Linked DNA regions of Homo sapiens: region 1 is linked to region 2. The links come from fine-mapping of genetic effects on gene expression. A gene starts in region 2. The other region holds a variant in brackets. All regions are shown on one strand. Distances are between the middles of the regions.

Evidence for each region. PIP is the estimated chance that this variant, and not a neighbour inherited with it, causes the effect.
Region 1: its variant is fine-mapped to the expression of NAT9 in whole blood (INTERVAL, PIP 0.95).

The regions. Positions count from the first base shown.
Region 1 is chr17:74,746,965-74,749,856 of GRCh38, reverse strand. RAB37 (RAB37, member RAS oncogene family) reads right to left here. Exons shown (of 9, transcript NM_001006638.3): 9 at 2,522-2,892. It overlaps NHERF1 (NHERF family PDZ scaffold protein 1), which reads right to left and starts at 1,229. Exons shown (of 6, transcript NM_004252.5): 1 at 570-1,229. The coding sequence starts at 1,010. SLC9A3R1-AS1 (SLC9A3R1 antisense RNA 1) reads left to right here. Exons shown (of 3, transcript NR_187307.1): 1 at 1-794; 2 at 930-1,284; 3 at 2,314-2,892. It overlaps MIR3615 (microRNA 3615), which reads right to left and starts at 1,244; the gene lies at 1,158-1,244. RefSeq lists enhancers at 166-791, 2,080-2,675 and a silencer at 996-1,685. The variant C/G (reference allele first, on the strand shown) is at 1,198.
Region 2 is chr17:74,774,672-74,777,563 of GRCh38, reverse strand. NAT9 (N-acetyltransferase 9) reads left to right here and starts at 1,219. Exons shown (of 7, transcript NM_015654.5): 1 at 1,219-1,297; 2 at 1,857-1,942. The coding sequence starts at 1,866. It overlaps SLC38A12 (solute carrier family 38 member 12), which reads right to left and starts at 1,065. Exons shown (of 10, transcript NM_017728.4): 1 at 987-1,065; 2 at 189-300. The coding sequence starts at 233. RefSeq lists an enhancer at 1,418-1,537.

The DNA of each region.
Region 1 (2,892 bases), 28 kb after region 2:
CGGGAGGATGAAGTCCAGCAGGACTGAAGTTCAGGACACACACCGGCGGGCTGCGGAGAGGGCCTCCTCGCGCCGGGGCTCCACACAGGAGGAGTAATGCTATTCCTCTAGCTTTTGAAGTAGGAGTGGCGGGCGAAGCTGGCACCTCTGGGGCGGAGAGCCCTTTCTCCCCGGCCCATCTGCGGACTGGGGTGAACGAGGAGAGGGCACCAGGGAAGGAGCAGGATTGGGGGATTCCGAGGAACGGGAGCAGACACCCACAGACCCGAGGGAAGGGGGCTGGGTTCCCCTGCGCCGCCCTCCCAAAGGCCAGGGAACAAGAGGTGCAGGCGGCAAAGGCGCTCAAGCTCCCAGCACAGCCTGGGAAGGAGAGGAGGTCGCGGGACGCAGCCCCAGGCCTGCCTAGGATGTGTCAGGGCGCCTGGTCGGCGGGCGGAAGCGGTCTCCCCCTCGCAGCTCGAGTTTCAGAAAAACGACGGCGGGCGCGGGGCTGGACGGCCGGGGCACCTGGGTCTCTCCGGATCCTCCTCCCACTCCATGCCAGCCTGCGCGGCTTGGGCCCCGCTTACCTGCTCCGGGTGGCTCTTGTCGGCCTCGCGAGGCTCATTTTCGTTGCCAGCCCCCTGCACCTCGGCGGCGGCCGGCGGCTCGGCCTGCCCCGGCGCTTCCTGGGCGCGCAGCAGCTCCTCTCGGACCTGGACGCCGAGCTTCTGCAGCTGCTCGTCCGTCTCGGGGTCGACCACCAGCAGGCGCACGGCGTTGAGTGCGGCGCGGATGCGGCTCACCACCTGCTGGTGGGTCTCCTTCTCCACGTTTTCGCCGTTCACCTCCACCAGCCGGTCCCCCGCCAGCAGCCCCGCCTTCTCGGCCGGCGAGCCGGGCTCCACCAGCCGGATGTACTGGCCCAACTTGCCCTTCTCCCCGTGCAGGTGGAAGCCGTAGCCGTTCGGACCCTTCTCCAGGCAGCAGAGCCGGGGCAGGGGCGCCCCGGCCGCTGCGTCCGCGCTCATCTCGCCCTGCGACGGGTCAGCGGCGCGACTTGGGGTTCCGATGGGGACGGGACGGGACGGCCCAGCCCTTCTTCCCGTCCAGCGAACCGGGAGCGCAGCAGAGAAGCCCTGAGCCGCCGGACGGGCCAAGCAAGCAGGTGTCCCAGGAACCGTCGGCCGCCGCGAGCCGCGAGGAGCCGAGAGAGGA[C/G]CACAGACCAATCCCCGCCCCGCGCGGCGTCTGAGCGTCCCAGAGTCCGCCCCGGCTCCTTACCCCGGGGGCGGGGCCGCGCTGAGGGTGGGGACCTCCGCGGGCCAATAGGGGGCTGCAGGCCTGGGCGCTCCGGCCGGGTGAACGGCGCCGGCCATTGGGAACGCGCGGGGCGGGGCCTGCGCTCGGCGCGGCGCCCCGCGGCGGGCGAAGACTAGCGCTCAGGAAGTGGAAGTGTTTGTTACCGAGCGGCCGGCGCTGGGGTGGCAGGGGCGGGGCTCGCCGAATTCCCGGTTCTGGGCGGGTGGGCCCGCCGGCTCCGGCCTGGTTTCCCCTACCTGTGGCGGGGAGTGAGGAAAGCCGGCCCTCGGGTAAAGGACCCTAACTTTTTTTTTTTTTTTTGAGACGGAGTCTCGCTCTGTCGCCCAGGCTGGACTGCCGTGGCGCGATCTCGGATCACTGCAACCTCCGCCTCCCGGGTTCAAGCGATTCCCCTGCCTCAGCCTCCCGAGCAGCTGGGGTTACAGGCGCGCACCACCACGCCCCGCTAATTTTTGTATTTTTAGTAGAGACGAAATTTCGCCATGTTGGCCAGGATGGTTTCAAACTCCTGACCTCAGGTGATCCGCCCTGGGATTACAGACGTGAGCCACCGCACCTGGCCAACGTTTTAACAGCCTTTAGCCAAAGCCTGGGTGCAGCTCCAGTTGAGAGGGAGCGGCTGTTGCCGGGGCAACTGCTCCCGCTCGGGGCAGCGAGGGCCGGTCAGTCTCGAGAATTAAGACGGAGGGCCTCCTCGGACCCTACAGAGTTGTTTGAATAACATTTTTCCGTTTGTGGGAACCCTAACCCTAATCCACTTTGTGCTGTCCCAGGACTCGCATAGAGGAGTGCAGGTTCTGATCCCTGCTGGGAAGGTGAGGGCTCCGCGGAGAGCCTGGGACCTCGAGGGGCAGCCCGCTGAAGACAGGCCATCTAGGGCAATAGCGTGGGCTTTGGCAGCAGCGTTTGGCTAGGGAGGTGGGGTGGGGAGAGGCAGGACAGACTCAGGTAATCAACCTCTGGGTACACGCCACAGGGAAAGGAGCCTTGGTTTTTTTTTTTTTTTTCCAACAGAAAAATGATTAGGACTGTAAAGCCTTCTAGCTCCCTCTTGCCAAAGAGAGGCTGGTCACAGAGGCGGGAGACAGTCTGTTGAGCGGGGAGCTGACCATCTGAGGACAGACACTGAGGAAGGAGGATGGAATGATTTTGGCAGTGAATGACAATTCCTTCAACAAGACCCCCCCCCCCCACTCACTTCAAAGAAACAGTGGACAGGATGTGCTTTCCAAAATACTGCAGTTTAATTCTGAAAAACTCAAATGCAAGAGGCCCAGAGCTGTCTATGGGATTGGATCTCCTGCAACCTGCCTTGGGCCCCAGAAGAGACTGGCAATGTCAGCCTCCTCCCTGCTCTGCCTGAGGGAGGCCACGGAGAACTTCCTTATCGGGCCCAAACTGGAGCCGCTGACTGCTCAGAGCAAGATTTCTGCCTTGAAAGCAAATGCAGTAGCCTCAGAAATGTGCAGCGCATACTTCTTCCTCCCCCTCTCCCCCTCCAGGCCGGCAGAGCTGCAGTAAAGATGCCTGCAGGTCATGACCTCATGTTTCCTGTCCACTTCCCATGGCAGGGATCGGAGCTTTGGGAGATAT
Region 2 (2,892 bases):
AAATCTGACTTACATTCTGAGCCACCACAGCAGCACTGTAGTCGCTGCCCCATGGAACTCCCCCATCCTGCTTCCACTATGGTCTGCTCAAGCAGCAGCACTCACTAGTCCCATCTCCAGCAAGCAATGTGCTTTTCTAGAAGCCAGGAACACTTAAGTGAGCAAAAGGTTCTATAAGTCACACTCACGTAGGAAGAGTAGAGTTCCCCGGTCTCTGTAATTTCACCCGCCATTTCCAAAAGTGAGGAAGGGCTGGCAGCAGAGGTTCCTTAGGTGCAAGGACGGCGGCTGCCGCAGCTCCTTAAAACAAAAGAGCAGGCTTCACCTATCTGATGGACTGAGACAGGGGTGGGAGGAGGCTTGCAGACTTCCCCTGCCACCTCTGGTTCTTTTATCACAGACACTTAGGGCCTCAGTATCTGTCACAAGACTCACCCCCGAGGGAGGGGTCACCCTGGATGACAGAAATCTGGACGGTTTCTTCTAACATTTCCCTTGCTGTGCAGGGCACTGCTCTGTGCCCAGCACGGATGTTTTCAATGCTGCTCGGGGTGCAAGTGATTTAAGGGGCCTCTAAAACCACTAAGTCTCACCCACCACAAGAGCCCCCTTTCCACGCTCTGGGGTGGTTATCCTCGTTTAGTTCCAGGAACCAGGAGCTCACTACCACACATGGGAGCCCAAGGAACTGTCTGCCGCCTCTGCCTAGGGCAGGGAGCTGGGGGCTTTCCTACATTGCCCTTCCAACTCCACTCTTGGCACTAAGGCCTCCTTTTTTTAATGGGGCCTCCACTCCCTGGCCCCACCTACTCTCTTAGGGTTCCCCACCCTCAAAGCTCCCTCTTTTCTCAAGAACCCCACTCCCAGCCTCTCCCTCTCTCTCCCTCCTGGAGGAGTCCCGAGTCTAGTGCCGCCCCGCCCCGCCCCAACCTATCCCGACCCGTCTCGTCCTCTCCCGCCCGTCCCGACCCGACCCGACCCAACACCTGCAGCACAGCCAGCTCCCAAGCCGCCGTCTCCCGCCGGTCCGCTGCTGCCGGCGCCAGCTGTCCAGCACCAGCTTCCGCAGCGCGCATGCGCCGGCCCCACAGCCCACCTTTTTCGCGCGCGCTGATTGGGCGCCTCGCGGGGGCGGGACCGGGATTGGGGCCTGGCGGCTGCCGTCAGCATGGCGGAAGTGGGCGGGGCGCGTTCTCACGCGCATGCGGAAGGGGCGGTAGCCGGCCGGGCCTGGGAACGTGGCTGGTTGGAGGAGGTAGATCACCCTTTCTGCGGGGGACGATTTCGTCGGTGGTAGGTGGGTGTGAGCTTGGCAGTACCCGGGTCCGCGTGGTTGGAGGGTCGAAGAGAGTGGTCTAGAACGCCACTCAAAGGGGAGGGCCTAAGACTAAGCCCGCCTTGCCCTGAAGTGGTCGGGGGCGGGGAGGGAGTGGCTAGAGCCCCGTGGGGTGGTCGCCGGGGTAAGAGGTTGGAAGTAGGTTTAAGGCAGGGCTGAAAGTTGATTCTGGGTTGGAATCCCTGGACTGGGGCAAGTAATGGGAGCTCTGGGGATACTTTGGTACTTGGTACTTGGTGCTTGGGTTTGAGGAATCGAAGTTCTGGGGAGTGGACGGAAGGAACCGGCAGAAACGGAGCCCAGGCTTGGCCTCTTGGAGTGGGAGTCAAGGATTGTTTAATTATCCTTAACCAGCCTGGTTCTCTTTCTTGCAAGAATTTTGGAGTCTGTATTCTTTGAAGTGTCTAGACGGAACTAATGACGGAAGTCAACTTAGCCCCAGCAGGAAAGCTGGAGCGCCTACCCAAAGTTGGAGGAAATTCAGGGTCCTGAAGTCTTTGCTCTCCCCATCTGCATGCAGGCTGCTACCATGAGGTTGAATCAGAACACCTTGCTGCTGGGGAAGAAGGTGGTCCTTGTACCCTACACCTCGGAGCATGTGCCCAGGTATCTTTCCCGCTTGACATGGGGTGCGTATCAGCACCCAGAGCTGTGTAAGGTACAGCCCCAGTCTCAGGGCTATTTCCCCTAAGAAGAAACATTGGTTGTGAGAAATAATTATATATGAGGGGGGAAAAAAGGCTGGGTGCCGTGGCTCACGCCTGTAATTCCAGGACTTTGGGAGGCTGTGGCAGGAGGATTGCTTGAGCCCAGCAGTTCGAGACCAGCTTGGGTAACGTAGCGAGACCTTGTCTCTACAAAAAAATACAAAAATTAGCCAGGCATGGTGGTGCACAGCTGCAGTCCCAGCTACTAGGGAGGCTGAGGTGGGAGGATTGCCTGAGCCCAGGAGATGAAGACTGCTGTGAGCTGTGATTGTACCACTGTACTCCAGCCTGGGTGACAGAGCAAGAACCTGTCTCAAAAAAAAACAAAAAAAACAAAAAAACAAAAACAAACAAAAACAAAAAAACGGCCGGGTGCGGTGGCTCACGCCTGTAATCCCAGCACTTTGGGAGGCTGAGGCGGGTGGATCATGAGGTCAGTAGTTCAAGACCAGCCTGGCCAACATGATAAAACGCCATCTCTACTAAAAACACAAAAAATTAGCTGGGCTTGTTGCCCGGCACCTGTAATTCCAGCTACTTGGGAGGCTGAGGCAGGAGAATCACTTGAACCAGGGAGGTGGAGGTTGTGGTGAGCCGAGATCACACCACTGTACTCCAGCCTGGGCAACAGAGTGAGACTTTGTCTCAAAAATAAAATAAAATAAAATAAAGGCTGGGCGCAGTGGCTCACGCCTGTAATCCCAGCACTTTGGGAGACCGAGGCAGGCGGATCACAAGCTCAGGAGAGCGAGACCATCCTGGCTAACATGGTGAAACCCCGTCTCTACTAAAAATACAAAAAAATTAGCCGGATGTGGTGGCGGGCGCCTGTAGTCCCAGCTACTCGGG